Homo sapiens: one gene and its partner. The protein of the gene in region 2 purifies or fractionates together with the protein of the main gene of each other region. This does not show direct contact. Each region holds a gene or a part of one and is shown on either strand. Other genes may lie near its edges. The genes, in order: MPRIP and PPP1R12A.

The links.
Region 1: the proteins of PPP1R12A (region 2) and MPRIP purify together in Homo sapiens (co-immunoprecipitation; 3 studies listed by BioGRID and IntAct, with this or other methods). This does not show direct contact.

The regions. Positions count from the first base shown.
Region 1 is NC_000017.11:17,032,834-17,045,482, forward strand, and holds the start of MPRIP (myosin phosphatase Rho-interacting protein), read left to right. Parts: upstream 1-9,623; 5' UTR 9,624-9,919; coding exon of another isoform or gene 9,920-10,015; coding exon 10,016-10,138; intron 10,139-12,649. UniProt on the Homo sapiens protein: Targets myosin phosphatase to the actin cytoskeleton. Required for the regulation of the actin cytoskeleton by RhoA and ROCK1.
Region 2 is NC_000012.12:79,803,650-79,815,410, forward strand, and holds part of PPP1R12A (protein phosphatase 1 regulatory subunit 12A), read right to left. Parts: intron 6,362-11,761; coding exon 6,146-6,361; intron 4,929-6,145; coding exon 4,834-4,928; intron 3,682-4,833; coding exon 3,577-3,681; intron 2,685-3,576; coding exon 2,517-2,684; intron 2,120-2,516; coding exon 1,943-2,119; intron 1-1,942. UniProt on the Homo sapiens protein: Key regulator of protein phosphatase 1C (PPP1C). Mediates binding to myosin. As part of the PPP1C complex, involved in dephosphorylation of PLK1. Capable of inhibiting HIF1AN-dependent suppression of HIF1A activity.

The DNA of each region.
Region 1 (12,649 bases), on a different chromosome or scaffold from region 2:
AAAAAATTTAAAAAGTACACAAACATTGTTCATGAATGGCTAGATACGCACATACGCATACATATGCAGCCCTGTGTCCCTGTGTGTATGCACATGTACATTATATATATATACATATATATATATATATATATATATATATATATAATTTTTTAAGATGAAGTCTTGCTCTGTCACCCAGGCTGGAGTGCAGTGGCGCCATCTCAGCTCACTGCAACCTCTACCTCCCCGGTTCAAGAGATTGTCCTACCTCAGCCCCCCGAGTAGCTGGGATTATAGGCGCACACCGCCATGCCTGGCTAATTTTTTTGTATCTTTAGTAGAGATGGGGTTTCACCATGTTGGCCAGGCTGGTCTCGAACTCCTAACCTCAGGTGATCCGCCCACCCTGGCCTCCCAAAGTGCTGGGATTACAGGCATGAGCCACCGTGCCCAGCCTACATGTGCATATATACACATTCATGTAGACATACACCTTGTTATTAGAGTTTTTACAAATACGGTCTCATTCAGCAAAAACTATGTGAGGCCATACATACTTTCCCCTTAATATGTTGTGAATACATTTCTATACTAATAAATATCTACACCCTGATTTTTTGAATAATTTTTGTTTAGTGATTTTAGATTTACAGCAAAGTTCCACAAAGTTCCCATACTCTTCCCCCACCTTCCCCTAATGTGAACATCTTACATAATCATGCTACATTTGTCAAAACTAAAAAGTTAACATTAGTAAAACATTATTAGCTGGACGACAGACTCTATTAGGATTTCGCCAGTTTCCCACTAATGCCCTTTTTCTGTTCCATGATCTCATCCGGCATCCCACATGGCATTCAGTCTCCGTCATCTCCTGAGGCTCCTCTGGTCCCTAACAGTTCTGAGTCTTTTCTTGTTTTTCACGACCTTGACACATTCGAAGAGTGCTGCTCACGTATTTTGTAGAATGCCCCTCATCTGAGTTTGTCTGATGTTTTTCTCATGAGACTGAGGTTATTAGTTTTTGGGTAAAAGATCACAGAGGTGAGGTGCCCCTGTCATTGTATCAGGGGGTACCCAGTAGCCACAAGACTTACCACCAGCGATGTTGAGGGAGCATCTGCTGAGTTTCTTCACTGTAAAAGGACTGTTTTTCTTCTTTCCATAGTCCATTAGAGGATGAGGATGAAGTTCTGCCTCTTGGAAGCGGTGGTTATCTATGTGTATTATTAGAATCTGATTTTACATGACAGAACAATGTTTCATTTTATGGATCTGCCCTCATTTATTTAGCCAGTACCCTAATGTCACACACTTCCATGACTTTCAGCTTTTCTTTTACAAACAAAGCTGCAAACCACAGCAGGAGCTCAACTTCAAATTCAAAAAAAATTGTGGTTTGTTTTTTTTTCTTTTGAGATAGGGTCTTGCTCTGTCATCCAGGCTGGAGTTTTAGTGATGTGATCACAGCTCACTATAGCCTTGAAATCCTAGGTTCAAGCAACCCTCCTGTCTTGGCCTCCCAAGTAGTTAGAATTATGGGCATGAGCCACCATGCCTGGCTAATTTTTAAAAAATGTTTTTGTAGAGATGGGGTATTGCTATGTTGCTCAGGCTGGTCTGGAACTCCTGGCCTCAAGCAATCCTCCTGCCTCAGTCTCCCAAAGTACTAGTATTACAGATGTAAGCCACCACATCTGGCCTCAACAAATAGTTTTCAAACAACTTCTCTGTAACAGACACTGCACACTCTAGTGAACAATGTTTGTATACCTCTTCAATGTTCTTTTTTCTTCTTAGAATAAATTCACAGGTTGGGATTACTAGGGCAAAAGGTAAGCACATTGTTAAGGCTCTTGATAAGTATCACTAAACAAAGCTCCAGGAAACTTGTACTAATCTGCTCTTTGGATTGACAATTTTATCTTTTTCAGCCTTTTTTTTCTTATTACAAAAATAATTTCTGTTTTTAGGAGATAACTGGAAATCACTCACTGGGCATTTAATGATATTAAAGAATTATTGTTTTTTTAGGTATGATAATGGTATTGTGGCTACTTTTTGAAAATAGTTCTTATCTTTTACAGACACACACAGTAGATGAGGGAGTATGGTTGAAACAAGACTTGTCCTGAGTTGATATGGAAGCTGGGTAATGGATACATCCACCTTCATTATATGATTTTCTCTATATTAGTAAGAAAACAAAAGCTTTTATTAAAAATTTTAAACATGATATAAATCTCTAGCTTAAGTGTGAGTCCCCATTCTTTCACCTCCCAGGGTTAACTGCAATGAACGGTTAGGTGTATGTGCCCCTGACCTTCTCCATGTAAACACTAACTGTGAATATTGCTAACACACACACTCTTAAAACAAGGATGAGCTACTACAATGCACACCATTTCTCCAACAGCTTTTCACTTCACCATATTTTGAGATGGATGGCCACGTCAACACTATCTCAGTCTTTAACAACTAGCCCCATGGTACTCCCCTGTATCAAAGAGCCATAATTTATTCATCCGATCCTCTAATGATAGACAATTGGAGTATCTCCAATTTTTGCTATTAAGAACAATGATGGAATGAACATCCTTGTACATAATATCTGTGTACCTGTGTGAGCAATTTTACAACCTATCTTTCTAGAAGTGGAATCACTATGTCAAAGTGGTCACAGACTTAAAATTTAAATAACATGTCCAACTTGCCCTTCTGGTGGACTTTCTGTGTCAAGTGCACTACATTCTCTCCTAGTGCACATCTGGAGACTATTGTCATTTGGTGCCTGCTGTAGAAAAGCCTCATGGCGTCACAGCTGGAAAGGGCCTCCGAGATCTTGTGGTCTTGCTTCCAGGGAAGGGTGGGGCCCAGCCCCCGATGCTGTCAGGGCCACGTGCAGCTCCCTGGGCTGGAGGTTGTGTAGAGCAGTGCTCACGAAGATACTGCCCATGTCTGAATCCCAGGCTTACCATTTACTGTTGTATGACCTTGAATACTTGCCTTGTCCGTGCCTCAGTTTTCTCATCTGTAAGCTGAGGATAATACTAATTCTGGGGTGGCAACTGGAAAGGGGTTAGGAGATTTTTCTTGAAGCTACATTAACAAAGTATATATTTATTTGGGGTGGCTTTCAGGGGATTGATGGATGATGGGGGGTGGGCACTAAGGACTCCCATCAGACACCACCAGCGCTGCCAGAGCTAATTTCAAATGATGACAGCTGGACTTAGTGAGATTCGACGTGACGAATGCCCAGCACACGGCACACAGCCTGGCACACTGTCAGTGCTCGATGGTTGTGAATTCTTGAATGCTGACAGGTGCTGTCTGGGACAGGGAGACCAACATTTCAGAGAGACTGTCCAGGAGAGGGAGGCCCGAGCAACAGGAAAAGAGGGGACCCAAGAAACAGCCTAATCCAGCCCGCCACTTACTACTTAAATAAAGTTTGATTGTAACACAGCTGCGCCCCTTCATTATGTAATGTCTATGGATGCTTGCACTTGACAATATCAAAGCTGAGTAGTTTCGACAGAGACCATATGGCCTGACAAGGCTAAAATATTTAGTATCTGGCCCTTTACAGAAAAAATCTGCCAACCCCTGGCATAGGGGTTATAGGCATACTAATACATGCTGATAGTTCTTGAGCTCACACCGTGTTTCAGGGACTGTTCTAAGCACGTCACATATATAAATTTCTTTAGTCCTCACAATACTCGTATGACATGGCTACTATTTATGGTAGCTAGTCTCAATGGTGGCCCCAGTGAACCACGTCTCCTGGGGCTGACGCCTCTGTGGGCCCCCCACCTCGAGTCTGGGACATCCTGTGCCGTGTGCTGACTAATGGCATGCGGTCGAGTGCCAGGCCTGGCATTAAGGAGGATGGGTACTTCTGCTTCTTTGCTCTGGGGAACACTGAGGTGCTGCACGCAGAGCAGAAGGGGAAGCCATGGGGAAAGGAGAGGCTCTGAGGCTGCAAGGAAAGGACGAAGGTCCAGCCAGCCCTGTCTCAGTCCAGCCTCCAGTGACCTCACCCAGCTACCATGCAGCCACACTTACAGCAAGCAAGACCAGCAGGACTGCCGGGCAGAGCCCAGTCCACTCTCAGAACCAGAGAGACAAGAAAATAGTGCTCAAGCCACTCTGCTTTGTGGGGTGGGGTGGTTCTGCAGCAATAGCTGGCTGAGACACACCACACCAGAGCCTTCGCCTTTCCACCCTCCTTTATCCAGTGGTTCCAACTCCTGTGTGGTTATGAGAATCCTCCAAGTAGCCTTTACAGACACCAATTAAATCAGAATATCTGGAAATGGACCAGAATAGGAATCCTTTTTTTTTTTTTTTTCTGAGACAGAGTCTAGCTCTGTCACTCAGGCTGTAGTAGCACTGTGGCACAATCTCGGCTTACTGCAACCTCTGTCTCCCAGGTTCAAGCCACCCTAGTAGCTGGGATTACTGGCCTGCACCATGATGCCTAGCTAATTTTTGTATTTTTAGTAGAGATGAGTTTTGCCATGTTGGCCAAGCTGGTCTCGAACTCCTGGCCTCAAGTGATCCACCTGCCTCGGCCTCCCAAAGTGCTGGGATTACAGGCCTGAGCCACCGCGCCCAGCCTCCAGAGTAGGAATTTTTTTAATCCTCCAGGATTTGAGAACCACAGCTCCACCCACTATTTCCAAAACTTGCCTAGCAGAAATATTTTAAAAACAGATTCTTCGGCTGGGCACAGTGACTCATATCTGTAATCCCAGCACTTTGGAAGGCTGAAGCAGGAGGATCTCTTGAGCCCAGGAGTTCGAGACCAGCCTGGGCAACATAGTGAGACCCTGTCTCTACAGGAAAATTAGCAAGCAAGGTGGCACACTCCTGTAGTCCCAGCTACTTGGGAAGCTGAGGTAGGAGGATCACTTGGGCCTGGGAGGTCAAAGCTGCAGTGAGCCCAGATCACACCACTGCACTCCTGGGCGACAGAGTAAGACCCTGTCTCAATAGCAATGACAAAATAGATTCGTGCACTCCAACAGATACACAATTCCATGGGAGGCCCTGGAAACCTGTAGCATTCACACATTCCTCCAGATGAATTTTATTATCAATGATTAGCAGAAAAAGGGCGAGATGAGAGCCCAGCTCTCAGGTGTGGAGAACTGCTTGGCAGTTTCCCATCAGGTTAAACATTCACTTCCCAAAACTTAGCCATCCCTAGTCTTGGGTATTCCCAATAGAAATAAGTGCTTGGCCGGGCGCGGTGGCTCATGCCTGTAATCCCAGCACTTTGGGAGGCCGAGGCAGGCAGATCACGAGGTCAGGAGATCGAGACCATCCTCACACAGTGAAACCCCGTCTCTACTAAAAAAATACAAAAAAAATTAGCCGGGCGTGATGGCGAGTGCCTGTAGTCCCAGCTACTCAGAAGGCTGAGGCAGGAGAATGGCCTGAACCCAGGAGGCGGAGCTTGCAGTGAGCCAAGATCGTGCCACTGCACTCCAGCCTGGGCGAAAGAGCGAGACTCCATCTCAAACAAAAAAAAAAAAAAAAAAGAAAGAAGTGCTTATGTCCACCAAAGACAAGCACGAAGATACTCGTAGCATTATTCATAATGGCCCCAAACTGGAAACATCCTGAATGTCTATCCACGGGAACATGGACAGATAAATTGTAGTATTTCCACACAAGGGACTACCAGGCAGCAATGAAAAAGAATGAAGTACTGATATATACAGTAGCCGTGTGGATTGAATTTCACAGGCATACTGTTGAATGAGAAGAGCCAGGCATAGCTCGCAGCGGATTCCACTCATCTATGGTGATGGAGATCAAAATAGTGGTTACCTCTGGGTATCTGTGTGTAAATTCTGCTCCCTAACAGGACACAGGGAAAACTTCCCAGGATGGCAGTCAGAGCCACAAATCAAGACTTACCTGCATTTGGGGCTCACCTGAGCGGCCTTTTCTTGCTTGCTTGCTTATTTGCTTTTTTGAGATAAACAATATACATTGAGGTGTACACAATGCAGTGAAAAAAGCATACAGCCCAGTGAATCTTTACATGTTTACACTGAGTATTGAACTTCATGCAAAGTGCTGTTCTAGGCCCCTGGAAAGGGAAGCCAAGGTTATGAGACACAGACTGTGTCGGTATGGATTTCATAATCTGGTGGAGGAGATATTACAATACAAGGTGGAACGATGACTTTTCATCCATTCACCCATGGGGTGTTTTTCTTGTTTGTTTTGTTTTTTGAGACAGAGTCTCACTCTGTCGCCCAGGCTGGAGTGCAGTGGCACGATCTCGGCTCACTGCAAGCTCCGCCTCCCGGGTTCATGCCATTATCCTGCCTCAGCCTCCCTAGTAGCTGGGACTACAGGCGCCTGCCACCAAGCCTGGCTAATTTTTTGTATATTTAGTAGAGACAGGGTTTCACTGTGTTAGCCAGGATGGTCTCGAACTCCTGATCTCATGATCCGCCCGCCTCGGCCTCCCAAAGTGCTGGGACTACAGGTGTGAGCCACTGCACCCCCATGGGGTGTTTTTGAGCCCCTGCTCTATGCCAGGCACTGAACTAGACAGGGGAAATGGAGTAGCAACCAAGACCCCACTCTACCGTGAGGGTTTTGGAGAGGAGCGCAACTAATTGATTCTACCTCCTAAACATTTTCCAAATTCATTCCCTTGCCTCCCACTGACCCTATCCTAGTCAGGCTGCTACCCTCTCTCCTCTGCAGCTCTCTCAGTCCTTGCCCCTGATTCATTCTCCAGATCAGCAGCCCTTACCTAAGTGCTCAGCCGAAAAAAATTCAAAATTGATGACTGCCCCTGGCCCAGGCAGCTCCGGTGCTGGCCTGTGTGGGCTCAAATCTTCACTTGTAGGATCTATAATTGTGACCACAGGCAAGTTCCTGATATGTCCTGAGCCTCGTGTGTGTCTTCTATAAAATGGAGATGAAATAGTATTAACAACAAAAACCATACCTGTCTCCCTGAAGAGGCTAGGCTTGCACCATCCACTACTCCTCCCAGTGCCTCTCAATGCTGGTCACTCCTGCCTCTCTGAACTACCCAGTGATAGAAAGCTGCTTCTGTTCATGAACACACCCTTTGGTTTCAAGGCCTGAGACTCTATAATTGGTGCCCCAGTTTGACGTGTCTTTCCCTTCACCTTCTCTGGCTGGGTCTTACTCAGCTCCAGACTCGGCCTAGGCATTGCCTCCTCCAGGAGCCTTCCCTGAAGCTGCCTACGGGGCTGGGTGCCCCTGTGTGGGCCCCCACAACACCCCGGATTGAACTTCTCTGTCTCCTGTTTCTGTTTGTCTCCACTTGCTTGAGTGTGGGCTCCTGCCGGGCAGGCTGCCTCTGAGTTGCTGAATGAAACTCTTCTTTGCGCCCCTACTGTGGACCCCTCCAGTCCAGTGCAGGTGCTGGATGTGCCTACTGACCTGAGCAGAACATGCTGAGCACTTTAAGGGAGGTGGCCTTGAGGAATGGGCAGGACATCAAGAAAGAAAATATATATATATATATATATATATATGTATGTATATATATATTTTTAAACAAGTTGTACATGCAGACAATACTAAATTCAGCAGAAACAAAAGGGATTGCAATGAAAATTAAAAGTAGGTCACCTCTCAACCACCCAGCTCCCCTCCCCAGTGGCCACCTCTTCTATCAGTTTCTGAGTATTCTCTGCAGGGCAGAATTGTCAGTCTTCCGTCCCTTTTTTATTTTGCAAAAATTTAAAGCAACAGAAAAGTTGCAAGAATAGTACAATAAGGCCGGGCGCGGTGGCTCACGCCTGTAATCCCAGCACTTTGGGAGGCCGAGGCGGGCGGATCACGAGGTCAGGAGATCGAGACCATCCCGGCTAAAACGGTGAAACCCCGTCTCTACTAAAAATACAAAAAATTAGCCGGGCGTAGTGGCGGGCGCCTGTAGTCCCAGCTACTCGGGAGGCTGAGGCAGGAGAATGGTGTGAACCCGGGAGGCGGAGCTTGCAGTGAGCCGAGATCCCGCCACTGCACTCCAGCCTGGGCGACAGAGCGAGACTCCGTCTCAAAAAAAAAAAAAAAAAAAAAAAAAAAAAAGAATAGTACAATAAACACCTTTTGCCTAGATTCACCAATTAACATTATGCTACTTAACAAGCATTATATCATTTAATGTTCACATTAATTAATTAATGCCAATTTTGTACATGAGGTCACTGAGGCACCAGGCAGGTTAAGGGACTTGCCCGAGGCCACAGAGCTCCTGCCTGGTGGAGCTGGGCTTTCCCCCTTAGGCTGCCAAAGGACTTTGATCTGCCTTCCCACAGCTCCCTTTTGAGGAAAAGCATTTTCTTACACTAAGTTGAAATCCACCTCCCTGGGATATTTACCAGATGATCCGTGGAAAAGTACACAGCTCTGGAAGCATTTGCTACTTCTCCTCCTAAAACCTCCTCCATTCCCTGAGCGACAGCTGCTGTGGCTGCCACTACCACATGCTCCAATGTCACCTCCTCCGTGAAGGCTGGGTTAGCTCACCCCCCTGTTTAAAGACTCACCATGACTCCCAGCTGCCAGTGGGATGACATGTGCACGCCTGGGCTTGGAATACAAGGCCTGGGTGATAGAGCCCTCTTCCAATCCCTCTTGCTCCTTCTTCCCCTATCTCCACTTCCAGCCACACTCAACCCTCTCACTGTCCACTTAAACTTCCCCTCCTCCTTGAAGCCACCCGAATTTTTCTAAAGAGCGCATTTCTCCCCTCTCTGGGCTCCTGCAACCTTCTGCCTGAGCCTTTGACAGCCTTTTCCAGGTTGTCTTTTGGCCAGGAGGCTGGACAATGGAGGACGGGAGTGACAGCTCGGCCCCTTCCTAGCAGAGTGATCCTACACAAATTACTCCAGGTGTCTGACCCTTCATTTCCTCAAGCACATCATGGGGGAAAGAATGCCTAGCTCAGCACCTGGCAGAGAGTCAGCCTTCGCTCATCTCCCCTAATGGAGCTGACAGCTCTTCAAGTCCGCTGACATCTTCTCTTAGTCATCCCTTGAAATACTACCCGCTGTTACTTCTCTGCTCCTCAGTCTCCTCCTATGTAAAATGGGGATGAGAAAGGAGAGGTTGCGAACCTTTAATGAGCGAGCCCTTGGAGTATCCAGCCCTTCCCGACGCTAACTGACTCCTACGAGGGGGCCTGGTACACAGTAGGTGCTAAACTAATCCTCTCCGAGCTGGGCTTGGGGAAGATGCCTCCGTTGGGTGTACAGCGTGGGCGCGGGAAGGCGAGCCTGGGAGCGAGGGGGTTGCAGAGAGGCAGCCTGAGGTCGGCTCCGCCTTCCCCCGCATCCCCCGCCCGGGCCCTGCAGCTGTCAGCCCGGCCGGCCTCGGCGCCAGTCCACCAAACCTGAACGTCCCATGCCGGCGCCCCCACCTTCCCGGCCTGCACAACTTACCTTGCGCTCGGCGGCCCTCGGTCCCGCCCCCGACTGCCATTGGCCCAGAGGTTCCTTTGTTAGCGAGAGCGCGCCAACCCCATTGGCCGGTGGGGCTGCCGATCGCGTCGGGCGCGGCCCCGCCCCGTACGCCCCGGCACCTCCCCGCGCCCGGCCGCCCGCCCGCCCGCCCGCCCGCCCGCCCCCGTAGTGCGTGAGGCGCTCCGGTCCCATTTGCAGCGGCCGCGGGGCGCCGAGGGCAGCTGCGGCGGCGCGGACGAGCCGGGACGGCGGCGACCGGAGCCTGAGAGGCGGGCCGCAGCGGGAAGCAGCGGGCCCGAGGCCGCGTCCATGGGCCCGCGGCGGCCGGGCGGCGGCGGTGCGGGCGGGAGCTGGGCGTCGCGCGCGCTGTGAGGCCCGGGCGGCTCAGGAGCCTCGGCGCGTGCAGCGAACCGCCCGCCGGGAAGGAGGCCGGGCCGGGCCTGCGGCGGGGCCGGCGAGGGATGCGGCGCGGCCGCGCTGAGCCCCTAGCCCGCCGGGAGCGCCAGGCCGGCCAGGCCTGCGCCGCCGCCGCCGCCGCCGTCGCCGCCGCGCCGACCATGTCGGCAGCCAAGGAGAACCCGTGCAGGAAATTCCAGGCCAACATCTTCAACAAGAGCAAGTGTCAGAACTGCTTCAAGCCCCGCGAGTCGCATCTGCTCAACGACGAGGACCTGACGCAGGTGAGCGACTGGGGCCGGCCCGGACACCTCCGTTCTGGGAGCCGCGGGTCGGCGGCCGGGGCGCCGCCAAGGGCTGCAGGGAAAATAAAAATGGAGCAGGGAAATGCGCGAGTCCTGGGGCATGGGGACGGGGACGGGAAGTGCATTGACAGAGCTGGGACAAAGGGAAAATCCTCGAGTATGCCGAAAAATAACATCCTTTCCCGTTCCCATTGCCCGGCTGTGTGATTCATGCTTTTTGGGTGACTCAAAAGTGCCTGGTTTCGCTTAGTAGGAACAAAGCGCTTAGGGATTGCATGCCGCTTGACGGGACCCCCCTGAGATTCTGGCTTGGGACTGGACTTGGATTTGTCCAGCCAGAGTGGCCCAGGGGTCGGATTGTTGGGGAGGACTGTGGGCTTCCGTCTAGTGGGACGCAGCCTGCCCCGATTCTGAATCATCGTCACTGTCAAGCACTGGAGAGAGGTGAAGGGGTGTCCAAATCTGGCGAGGAGGGTCTTGTTCTTGAACTTAGTTTGGCAGGCCGTAGTTTAGCGGGGAGCTGGGACCAGTTCCCTGGTCACTGGCCGAGGGGTGAGGAGACCTGTGGGTCCTCGGGAAAGTTGATTTCTGTCTCCCAGCCTTAACTGTCAAACAGGGCTTTGAACTAGTTATGACTCCCAAACGTGCATTAGAGTCATAGCCATTAAACACAGAGTTCTGGGGCCCCCGCCCTGGAGTGACTGGGGAGATGGGGAATTTGTATTGATGAAAGGCTCCAAGAGGCTTGGCTGCAGCCCCCATGGCCCTTGGGAACCCCTGCAGTGATTGCTGTTTGAACTCCTAGTGTTCCAGGATTCCGAGCCTTGTGTGCACCTCCTTGGGATGTGCCTCGGTACCCTCCCCACGGCCATCATCTCCATCCTCTTCAGAGCTTTCTCTCAGCCTCCTGAATGAAGCCAGGGGAAGTCCCTTCACATTCCAGTCCAGTGTGACCTAGTTGTAGCCACTCCTGTCGCAGAAGAACCCCTTAGACTGAAAACGAGTGAACGGGCCTGGTTGTTTTTAATGCCACTTCAGTGCACCCAGGGTTTGACTTGTTTACATGGCCGACTGGAGTAGGGTGGTGGGGCAGGGGTTACGGCCTGGGGCACGGGGCCTTTCTCTGAGGTCAGGTTTCCAACTGCCAGGAAAAGATTCCTTTCATCTAAACCCCAAAAGCTTAACGAAACACTCAAGGCTGCAAAGTCATAGATGGTTAAGATACCAAGGGTTTTAAGGACGGTCAGCTTGGGACGGATAGAACTCATTTACCTCGGAGGGTGTTTTGGAGTGTAAAGGAGAACTTGATTCCTTCTTCTCATCTGGATGCTTTTTTGGATGAAACAGTTTATGCGATGAGGAGTTGTTAGGAGACTTTGCTTCAGGTCTTGGCTGTCACTTCCAGCTGTGTGACCTTGAACAAATCCCTTTACTTCTGTATCTTTTAATTTCCTTATCTGTAAATTGGGAATCCTGGTCCCTGGCTTACCTCCTTCACTGAGCATTTGTGAAAAGCAAGAAATGATATTTTATGAAACTTTTTTCTCTTACAATTTAACAAACCAAAAAAACCTGCCACTTTAAGAAGTTTCTGGGCAAGGGTTGTTCTGAGAGAGGTTTGTAAGTTTCCTGGTTATTCTAAGCAACTGTCAAAATTGGTAAATTTACACCTCATAGGGGCTGTTTTCGAATTCTTAAGCTTAGATAAACTAGGATGGAATCTGCATGTTTGAGTCCAATCTGCTAAGATTTTTTTTAATCTGTTGATTATTAATTGGATTCACGGGGAGAGGCAAACTTAAAATACTGTACTCTCACTGTATTCAAAGTTGAATTGTGGGTTTTGAAACAGGCCTGAGACCTTCAGGGCACAACTGGAATGGTAGTTTCTGAAATAATGAGTGGGGTTATTTGTGCTGGGAGAGGTTAGCCCAGCATTCTACCTCCTGGGATCTTTCAGGAAGAAACTGCTCTTGAAAAGAGAGGAGGGAGACTCAGGGCTGTTGCCAACAGCCTTCTCTGCTGCTCTCTGCATCCGGCCCTCCCTCTCACTCTCATCCTTATGGCTCCATTAGAAAACCTCAACCAATCGGTTCCCATCAGTCTCCCCCAAGCCCCTGCTTCCTGCTGCCCCTCCCAGCCTGGAGCTTATTTTAGACCGTCAAAGCTGGAAGATACATCAGCCACCATCGAGGCCACTCCCTCCTTAAGAGGAGAGGATACTGGGCCCAGGGAGGTGGTGGGCAGCCTTGGCCGGCTTTTGCTCTGGAGATGTCATCTTCCCAGGAGCAGACATTTCTCTGAGCCTTTTGGTTTGAGGTTTATTTCCTCAGCTGTGGGTTTTGTTTGTTTGTTTTTCCCCTAGAGAGGCACAGAAACCTCTTGCAGGGACTGTATTATGGCATCAGACCTGGAAGGGACTTGGAGATCAGCTAATGTAACCACTTCCTCTTACCGGTGAGAAGATTGAAACCCAGAGAAGGGAAGTGA
Region 2 (11,761 bases):
ATTGCAAACAATTATTTCACATGGAACAAAACACAAACAATATCACTGCAAACATCATTGAAACAAGGTTAAGACAAACAAAAAACCTCTATAATATAGACGAGAAAAAATGTTGCCACATTTTTTTCTTATGCAATTAGAATCTGTTTGTTTAAAAATATATCCAAGCGTTTAATTTTCAATCTTCAATGTCTTCCATTAAAACTAATTAGGACTAATTCTAAAAGTCAAAACTCAATTCTCTTTAGCAGAATAAACAATCTGTGGGTTAAGAATCATAATTTGTTCTGAAACAACTGATGATTCTGGGGAGACATTTATTAGGTTTTGTCACTGGAGAAATTTTCAAAAGCACTGAATCTCTATGCTAGAGATAGAAAAGATTCTAGAAGTTAAAAATAATATAAATCAAACACCTCATTTAACAGAAGAGTTTCTGACTCAAAGATAATTCTAACCTTAAGAATCAAGGCAGAGTAAGGAGTAAGAAACCAAGAACTTCTGATCCTTCTTCCTTTCAATAACCCCTCCCAACCCCACCACCAAAAAAAGCAAAGCCCTCAAACTTATTTAAGTTTGATTAAATGATGGATACTAATTTCTGTTGGCTCTGTGGTCTTACTGAGAAGCACTACAACAACCTAAAACTGACTTAAGTTTATAGGAAAAAGGGGAAGATAATTAAAATATAATATGACCTATACTGGTACTCAAATCACAAAATACTAACCACTTGCAGTGGCATTATAAAAGTACCACTAAATTTCACCATAGAAATAGAAACAAAACCTAAATATAGGCAAAAACTAAAGATGCAATGATAGAAAAAAAAGTTAACACTAACTTATTACTTTTCATATATTCAAACACAAATATTACTGTGAGGCCATTACTACTACAGGCCAGGCACTTCAGTAGGCAACAGAGAAAAAGAACTCTGTATGTAAGTACTACGTGACAGAAATAAAACAAAGTTAATCTGGTCAGTATTTTAGTAAAAAAAAAAATTAGTTACATAGTTCATTTAATTTTGCAAGAATAAAATATAAAAATAAAGCTCACATTTGGTTTCCTAAGGTTTTATTTTTTTTCAAGAGGAAAAAAAAAGCTAGGGACTATGCATAATATAGCAGAAAGAACTGAACTACTTTTCCTGCAATCTTGGGGCTAGCCTCAGCCCTCACACCAATAAAGCATACAAAAGTAAAATAGTCACATATTATCTCTGGGTCTCAGTTTCCTTCGGTAAAGCAAGGAAATCCCAAAAGATAGTTAGTAAGCTCCTTTGTACATCTATGATTCCATGCCAGTAGGCAGCAACAGAAAGAAGTGAGCAATCTTTTAAAAATATTTAAGCACACAAAATAAATTCAGACTCTTTGAAAAAATCTGAATAAGTGCTTTCTATGTATCAGAGATAAAATTAAATGAATGTATTCAACATACTCAAAATTATTTGGCTTACACTTATGCACAGAAGTCTTTCCTTACCAAGAGAAGAAATTCTCCAAATCAACAGGAACAAAACAGTTCAACATCCTTCAAATTTCTTAATAATGGGAGGAAACAATGAGAAGAATGATAAAACCTGTTTTTGTCATGTTGCATCTAATTTTCCCTAAGTGTGTGGTGTTTTCAGTTCTTCATCAAAAAATTTTTTTTGAAATAAACCACCTTAGAAACTAAAATGTTTAAGAAAACAACTGTCTTGCTCACTGACTTTAAACAAAAAAACATTAATTCTGTCAGAGGTGAGTCGCAAAGCCTAAATATAAATAATTGCTAGTTGTATAAATTTACATAGTTCTGAGCTGACAGGGTATTTCATTTATTAGTCTACTGGAGAGATGGCCATCAACCTCACAAGATCTTTTTTAAAACAAAAAACAACTTTCATCACTGGGCAAGATATATCAGCAGTACTGTTATGACCTTTACACACCTGCGTCTCTCCCTGACCTCTGTTGTGGAGGAGACAGTGCCAGCAGTAGTTGTAGTCAGGGTTGTGGTAGAAGCTGCAGCATTTACAACAGTTGGAGCAACAGGAATGGTCACTGCCGTAGGAACACTGTCCTTTTCTTTCTCAGTACTATCCTCAGCCCACAAACGATTTGAGGTACTATAGCATCATAAGCAGCAACACAAAAAAGAGAAAAGGAAAACAGCTAAACAATGAAAGCACTTTCTAGCAGCTGAAAACACATGACTACAGGGATGGATTTTTTTAAAACGCAAGGTGAGACATCCTTAAATTATGAACCAAAAAGCTCACCCAGAGTTGTCAAAGAGAGAAATTTACATTTTAAGCAGTCTAATTCAAGGAAAGTTCATAGTTCAGGAACTTAAAATTTCCCCCAGACATGCATAATTGCCTCATTTTGGAACCAATTTTTGTCTGCAAATAAATTTAACAAGATAAATGAAAAAATCCAGAGCCCCACAATCTTCTAAACAAAAACGCATGCACATACATAAGCACACAGTAGACCTGAGCACAAAATGTATCTGTGACTTACCTGCTTTGTGTGCCTGCTGAGGAAGAACCCGTTGTAATCTTTGTAGTAGTGCTTGTGCTGGAAAGCAGGCTTTTCTGAAGCCCAGCTGCAGAGGTAACTGTTGGTGTTGATGTGGTGCTTGGAACACTAGAACTAATCAAATCATCTTGTCTTCTACCAAAGGAGCAACTAAACAAAAGAGTCATATCTATATAGGATGTGTTTGTATGTGTATTCTATAGTTAATGTCTATACATTATATAAATTACAAGGCTAGAAAAAAAATTTAAAAACTGTGTTCCTAAATACACCACCAGCTCCAGCACCAAGAGTTGCATCTACAACTTGCTAGAGTTTAGAAGATTTCACTTAATTCGGTAGTGTATCATTTTAGTGCCTCCTCCCAACTTTCTCAACAAGACAAAGATGATCTGATATTTCATATTTTTGAAACTATTCCACACCATATGGTCATGCCAGGCTGAGCCTGAAAAACACACTTTGGTTTTGTATTACCCAGGGAAAACAAGACGTTGACATTTTTTTGAAGGAAATTATTTCAGCAATGGGTCAGATACCTCGGAAGTAACCAATGCCTACATGATACTTGTTCACATCTTATTCTTTTTGGTTGCTTTTAGTAAAGAAATTGTTTATAGGGCTTTTTTTTCCTCTTCAATATGATACTACCAACATTCCAACTGAAGGCATTTCCATAGCTCTGAGTTCTAGGGCAAGCCAAATCTTTCCAGATCAACAATGACAACTAGATCCATTAAGACACTGGCCTGTTTAAGTTGTTCTAGTCAAGGAGTTCCTTCTAAAGGAGTTCCTTTTAAATATGTAACAATCCAAAAAACATTTCATAATATTTGAAGCTTAATTATATAATAGGCATAACAAATTATCACCTATCTTTAAATATATATCCTGTGTTTAGAGTAAGTTTTAAACAACAAAAACTCGTATTTAATAAAAACACATATTTGTTTAAAATGATGTTAAACTGAGGGCTCCAAACAAATTGCCTCATATTTTTATAAATGAATACATAAAAACCGCTTAAGAATAGTATTATTACCTTTTATGATACGTTGATCCTTCATTAACTGAGCTATTTTTTTTAAGATCATCTTCCCATTTTCTCCTTGTATATGAACTACTTGTTCGCAAACTTGAAGAATCTCTGTTAAAAGAACACCCTTCAGATTCTGGTACATAATTTTAAAATAGGATTAAGAAAGCGGTACACTAGTAAATATTAGTATAAGCTGAAACTAGTAAAAACCTTTGGGAGGACACTTAGGAATACTAATCAAGAAGATAAAGTAATTTCAGTACTAAGATTATATACCCTAAGGTATAATTTTTCCCCTAAGTATGGGGGAAAATTCAGATATTTATAGAAATATGCTTTTTGATCACAAAATATAAAGTAGGGGAGATGCTTACTTTAACCGCAGAAGATCTACTTTATAGTATGTTATGTGCCGACAAAAAAAATGCTTATTAAAAATATATATTAACATAGAAGACTGCTTATGAGATCTTAGGGGAAAAAAATAAAAAAATTAGATATTATAACATGATTAAAAGTATATTAAAAAGTTATTGGCCGGGTGCAGTGGTTCACACCTGTAACCCAGCACTTTGAGAGGCCGAGACAGGTGGATCACAAGGTCAAGAGTTCAAGACCAGCCTGGCCAAGATGGTGAAACCCTGTCTCTACTAAAAATAAAAAAATTAGCTGAGCAGGGTGGCAGGTGCCTGTAATCCCAGCCACTTGAGAGGCTGAGGCAGAGAACTACTTGAACCTGAGAGGTGGAGGTTGCAGTGAGCCGAGATTGCGCCACTGCACTCCAGCGTGGGTGACAGAGCGAGACTCTGTCTCAAAAAAAATAAAAATAAAAATAAAAATAATTAAATTAAAAAAATAAAATTCTATAAGCTGAAAAACAGGAAGAAACTAAAATATTTAAACAATATTTAAACAAAAATATTTAAAACAAACTAAAATGATTAAGTAAGGGCTTTCCTTCTTCTTTCCCCTTTCCTAAATGTTCCAAATATTTAGAGAACTCATACTAGTTCATGACCTTATCTCCTCCCACTTTCCCCTTACTCTGTTCCAGCCACATCTTCTTTGCTATTATTTCATGAACATACCAAGCCTGCACCTCCTCAGGACTATGTACCTGGTATTTTCTCCTTCAGGAATATCCTCCATCTCTTCCCACAATACATATCCGCACATAATTACAATGCTCATGTATTAACTCTAATGCTAGATAATAAAGATTTTATAGTGAATGCATAAAGCAAATCAAAATAAACTCACCTGTTTTCTTTCTCTTCAATGTCAGATGTACTGGCTAGTCGTCTTGGTATTGTAGGTGCAACATATGCAAGCCTAGTTCCTTTACTATCTTTCTCCTACACAACAGGGAAAAAAATAAGTAAAAATTAATTTGGGTACTGACTATAGGCAATGCTAAAAGTATTAAGAAAAGGTTATTCAATAATTATAATTACATAGCTATCATAGTTTACAGTATTTCAACAATTCCTAGCTGAACTCTAAAATTAATGTCAATCAATAATCAGCCTGTTCAAATTAGTTTTCTTTCTCTTTTAGCCTGGAATCAGATAATATTTTACTAAGAAAGGAAAAAAATTTCTCCAGATTTTAATGACTTTTTCTAAAACTTCTCTAACAGATTAATACTGTGTCATAAGCTGAAATATCTTTATTTCTTCCAGAGAAATAAACTTTCAAATATTGTTCACTGAGAGGTCTCAAGCATTTATATTATATAAGCTATTTAGAACCTTGATAATCAATGCTCTCAAATACATCAAAATAGTCAAAACAAATATTATTTAAATTATATTTATCCAAATATGGCTAAGAGTGTGTAGTGACAATGACACTCTGATACATTCCTAGTAAGCTGGCATAAAATACCTGGAAACCAACTGCACAGTAAACTGATAAAAAAGCAAAAATATTAGAATTACTTGATGAGAAATTTCATCTGAATTTCTGATATAAGGAAACATTTCTAAGTATAGAAAGAAAACTGTATGGGCAAAAAAAATAGTTCAAGCACTGAATATGCTGTAGAAATAAATACTAGTATTGAATAAACTGTGGTACATCCTATATAATGCAGTATTAATACCACCTCTCAAAATAGTTATTAAATTTACTCATTAAGACAAAGTTGCTTGTAATATGGTAGATGAAAAATCTGGTATTTTTTTTCAGATACTGAATAAATGTAACTTATGAGTATACTAACATTCTAGAATAAATGTGTTCCTATGTTTTTTAAACTTCAGAAAGTTTCTTGAATCATAATAAACAAAATAAGCCTGCTCCTTAATACAGTTCTATTATAAATTCTCAAGTAAGGTAATAGATTCCTTTAACGGAGTATAGTCCCATAATTTATGTTTTAGGCAAATACATCTGATCTTTCCAGTATTTATAATTCTGTATAAATTACATTTGTCTTATGTAATTCATTAAGGTTAATTAACTTGATACCTAGATCTAAAGATAACTAGCAGAAAATCTACCAGATTTGATGTTCCTGGAAAAGAAATCATAACAGTTTTCATAGAAACCAGACTGTGAAATAGATTACCTTTTCTTTATTATCCAAAGAGGAGGAAAGTCTGGGACTTGAAGCTGAACGTGTAACACCTGCAGTATCTTTTTCTTTCTGACCCTCTTTAGATGCTGTGATTTCAGCAAGTGCACCATAGCTGCCCGTCTTTCTAAGTCCTAACCTCCAAGTTGCAGGAGACTCATCTTTTCTCTCTTCTTCTTTGGGAGAAATTTTTGTAGCTGTGGTTGGAAACTGTGTTTATTTTATTTTTTAGGAAAAGAAAAAAGAATTTGTAAAGCTGATCAGTCCTTAAATTGGAAACAATAAGTTTACAGATAATATATTTAAAATTATGGTTTACAGTTTCAGGATAAAACACTTTTACTACATAGGTTAATGTCTTAGTAAAAAATGTAAAGATCTAAAAATTTTAAAGAAATAGACTACCTTCCTAGGGGTTAGACTTAAGAAAACACACTACACACTTTATATCACACAGAAAAATTATGATGCAAATACAGAAAACAGAAATGAGCACACCATAAGGACTTAAAACCATGCATCTTTGGAACCAATTTATATTAAACTTGTTATGTTGTAACCTAATATAAATTCTTGCACATAGAAATGCCTCACCATAGATTTTTCACCCTTACTGGGCACAAGAACAATGCCAGTTTTGCGCAAGCCCTGCCTCCATGATGCAGGATCTACTGATTCCACCACAGGCATGATAGGAGCAATGAAATCATACTAAAGCCAATTAAAATAAGACAGGTAAAGAGACAAAGATTGAAAGCATGAAAACAGAAAAGGGAAGTTATGAACAAAAAATATTTTCTTCATTTGAAAATAATTTTATAATTAACCCCAATAATTGGGTAATGATCCAATCTTTAAAAGTCACTGGGAACAAGTTCTAATTTTAGCATGAGATAATCTGAAAAAAATCTAATAAACTTCTAAAGCAATTAAAAGGCATACAGAGTAGATAATATAGCATGTGACTGAACAAACTACTGCACATGAATTTTGTTTTTAATCCATGTATATACTCTGGTTAAAAAATTTTGTGTCCAATATAATCAACAAAAACTAGTAACTGATATTTTTCCAATTATAATACTTTTTTTTTTAACATCACAGCCTTAAATTTACTGATTTCCCCACCAAACATTAACTATTTCAACTATAATAAAAACTAATTTTATGTACAAATATTTATGCTATTTTAAGGGCTTTCCAACAACCCTAAAAATGCAACCTCTGTTATCTTTAGATCACTTCATCAACTTCACTTCTAGAAATTCTATACTCAACCACAGTTAACTATATAGATTGGTGAATACAGCAACTAACTAGTTGCCACAAGCATAGGGTATTAATAATTTTTTAAAAATCATTTCTTTCATATCTATTGCCAACATTTGCTATAATTAGCAGGTTAACAGGGCTTGTTAAAGCCCCCATGATGATGCTTGAGGGCCACTTCATGGACAAAACTGTTATAAAGATATACCTCTGGTACTTCCAGTAATGAATTGCTATCAATAGTGTCTAAGCATTCCTCAGTTCCTAAAATGTGCACCAAAGTGCTCCAGAGTGTCACAACAAAATCACGGGGGCTCTGTAGAATATTTTAAAGTTTTGAGAGAAGCACAGTGACATCTCATAGACACTGCACAAACTGCCATTTTGATCACATTTCCATCAAACTACTTAATGAGACAAACAGGCAATTCCTTTTGCCAGTGGCACTGTGAAAAAATCCTACCAAACACTAGGGGCTCCAATGACCAAGAAAGTTTGCGAACTCTAATATTCTGTGCAATATGATAGGTACTGAGACAGCTGCTTATTGATTGGTGAGTTTACAGGGCTACACTGTAAATGCTAGGCTTTGTGGAACACAGATAATATTAATACACAAATGATTGAGTGTGGCTGTAACCAATAAAACTTTAGGGACAATGACTTTTTTTTATTTTTTTTCTCCAACCAGTTTGCTATACAAAAACAGGTAATGGGCTAGGTTTGGCCCACCAGCCATAGTTTGCCAACACCCACATTAGGTCTCCCACCTCCTCAAAAAACAGAAACAAAAAAACAAACAAAAAACCTGGAAACAAACGTTTTTTCCCCCATTATAAAACAGCCAGAGTCAGTCAGTCAGATAACATTTATTGTTATAAATGAAGCTAACATTTATTGTTATAAATGAAGCTAACATTTAACAAATATTTACTAGTGTGTGACCCTCAGCTAAGTGCTTCACATGGGTTATCCTGTTTCAACCTTATAATTACCCAATGAAATACTACTATTACTGTTATTTTAGAGTTGAGAAAAACGAGGCAGTACTATCTATCAATTTTGAAATGGGCATTTGTTACACTGTAATGGCTGATATACCTCCACTCTGCCCAACATGAACTTGGATTTAAGTACTGCTTTATATGTCTAAAAGCACCTTTTAATTTTACTTGATATATAAATAAACCCTTCCTGAAATACTTAACTATACCTCCTCCTCCATTAAACTCTCTTCTTTGGCTTTTTTTACTGGACACTATCTTCACCTTCTTTTTCTTTTTACTCTGACCATTCCTTTTCTTGACTGACTCTGTGTGTGCGTGTGTGTGTGTGTGTGTGTGTGTGTGTGTAACGTTCCTTATACAGGCTGTGTGTGTTTGTGTGTGTGTGTGTGTACAACTTTCCTTGTGCTAGCCCTTCCAGAGCCTGCTCTTGGATCTCTCATATTCTCTTTCTACTTTCTTCTCCTGGGGGGTTAGGAGGAGGGTCTTTACTTCCTCAGGCTAAATATTAATTGTAGTCAGCTTATTCTCAAATGTGTTATTCTCCAGTCCAGTCTCCTAAATTTCCAGTCCTAATTTTACCTGTCTATTCTAGGTAAAATTCTACCACACTATTCTAGAGTGGACAATCTAGAACTATAACTGAAAACTTGAAACTCAGTATGTCTAAAATAAAACACCTTTACTTCCAAACCATCTCTTCTTCAGTTCCCTAATTCTGTTAATGGCACTAAGTATATCTCTTCAATCTCCTATGTTTCAAACTTCACAATTATGTTAGACCTTCTCTGTCATTTTCCTCCATCCATAAATTAGAGGTCAAGTCTCTAAATCTCCTCTCCTTTATAAGCCCAGAGTCACTTCTCTAGTTCATATTCTTATCATTGTGGGCAACTTCAATGACTTTCTAATAAACCTTTTCTCAATAAGCCTCTCATCTTCAAATCTGTACACTGCTGTCAGAATAATATTCTATAAAGAATAATCCTCTCATGGCATTGTTCAAACATCTTCCACGACTACTACTTATCAAATAAATTATAAAAGTGTTATCCTACAGTTGAAGACATCCTGCAATATAGCTCTACTTTTCCTGTTTACTTTGTATATATGCACCCTATAAATCAATCAAATGGAACAATTCATTTTTCCTGCGAAAGTATTCCATATTATCCCCACTTGCTCATATTGTTTTTCTTCTCTCCCTTTCAACAAGGTTTACAAGCCCTTCTTCTCTCAGGTGGAGTACTACCTACTTTAAGATTTATCTAAAATGTCCTGATTCTACTACCTTAAGTCAAATATAATTTCTTCTCCTTTTAAATCATGCTACATCTGTACGTTTCGATTGGACTACTTTATATACCCACAGCACATAGCAGTCTTTTGTTAAATTATTAGCTATTACATTGAATTCAATTAACCAGAACACTTAATTCCATAAAAATTCTGAATTTTTACCATCAAGTAAAGAAAATGCCATTTACATTTTATTGGAATGTACACCCATATAGAAGAATAGATAATCTGCTTTAGAGATCCCAACAAAATTTATTTTGACCAGAGAGGCTTATATAAACTTGTTAGTTAACAATTTTAAGCACAAAATCAAACTGATGGTTTTATAGATAACATCTCCACAAATCATCAGCTTGATATTGCTACAGAAACAGTTCTTTAATTTCAGCGGAAGGGTTAAGGAATTAAAGTAAACACATCTATCTTTCACCATAGTTACCCCAAGTTATTAAAAGAAAATAAGCATGTAAAACTGTTTCGTGTGCTTCCATTTTTGTGATCTGTCTTGCCATGAACACAAGTGCACACATACATAGTTTATGTACTGGGGTAGGAAGCTGGAGAACTTGATAACTTTATCTAAATATTAGAAGTGGAGTCATGACTGGGAACCTAAAAACAGATAATTGCAAAACCTTTTAAGATGCAATTAGAAATTAACAACCTGTTTAAGGAAATTTAATGTTAGGTCACTAAAGTTACAGATAAACTTGAAAAAATTTTAAAAAATACTAATATGCTAAATTAGATACAGGAGTATAAGAATCACTGAAAATAACAGGTTTTAAAAGTCATACAGTATTGATAAGAAGACTCCCTCTTCGGCTGGGCATGGTGGCTCACGCCTGTAATCCCAGCACCTTGGAAGGCTGAGGCGGGTGGATCACGAGGTCAGGAGATCGAGACCATCCTGGCTAACACGGTGAAACCCCGTCTCTACTAAAAATACAAAAAATTAGCCAGGTGTGGTGGTGGATGCCTGTAGTCCCGGCTACTTGGGAGGCTGAGGCAGGAGAATGGCGTGAACTTGGGAGGCGGAGCTTGCAGTGAGCCGAGATCGTGCTACTGCACTCCAGCCTGGGCAACAGAGCAAGACTCCATCTCAAAAAAAAAAAAAAAAAAAAAAAAGGACTCCCCCTCTTCATTAAAAAAAAAATTTCAGGCCAGGCACGGTGGCTCATGCCTGTAATCCTAGCACTTTGCAAGGCCGAGACGGGTGGATCACCTGAGGTCAGGAGTTTGAGACCAACCCAGCCAACATGATGAAACCCCGTCTCTACTAAAAATACAAAAATTAGCTGGGTGTGGTGGCAGGTGTCTGTAATTCAGCTACTCGGGAGGCTGAGGCAGGAGAATCACTTGAATCTGGGAGGTGGAGGTTGCAGTGAGCCGAGATTGCGCCACTGCACCCCAGCCTGGGTGACAAGAGTGAAACTCTGTCTCAAAAAAAAAAAAAAAAAAAAAAAAAATTCAAAATTTTTACACATGATCGTTTTGAATAAAATTTGGTTACAAAACTTTAAGAACAAAGAAACAATATAATCTTCAAAGTAAGTTATGGTGCTTGAAACTGAGAATAAAATAGTTTCTAAATATGCAAATTTAGAAGCAGATGTTATTATATTAGCTTAATTACAGAATCAAGAGTGATTTTGAATAAGAACTTTTACAGCAAAGAGATTACTGGCCCACTATACTAACAGAGGTTATAAAGTATTTCTTTTCAGTTAGGGCATTAGGTATAAATTGAGAACTACATTGCCATAAATGTTGGCTATATGTGAGAAAAAGAAAAAGAAAATTGAACACAGGAAGTTTACCGTAATCATTTGACTGTAGTAGGAAAGGGATTACTTAGCCAAATACCCAAAAGATAGAGAGCCAGTGCTGGGTGCAGTGGCTCACGCCTGTAACCCCAGTACTTTGGGTGGGCGGATCACAAGGTCAGGAGTTCGAGAATACCCTAACATGGTGAAAACCCATCTCTACTAAAAATATAATTAGTCAGGTGTGGTGGAGGTGCCTGTGATCCCTGTTA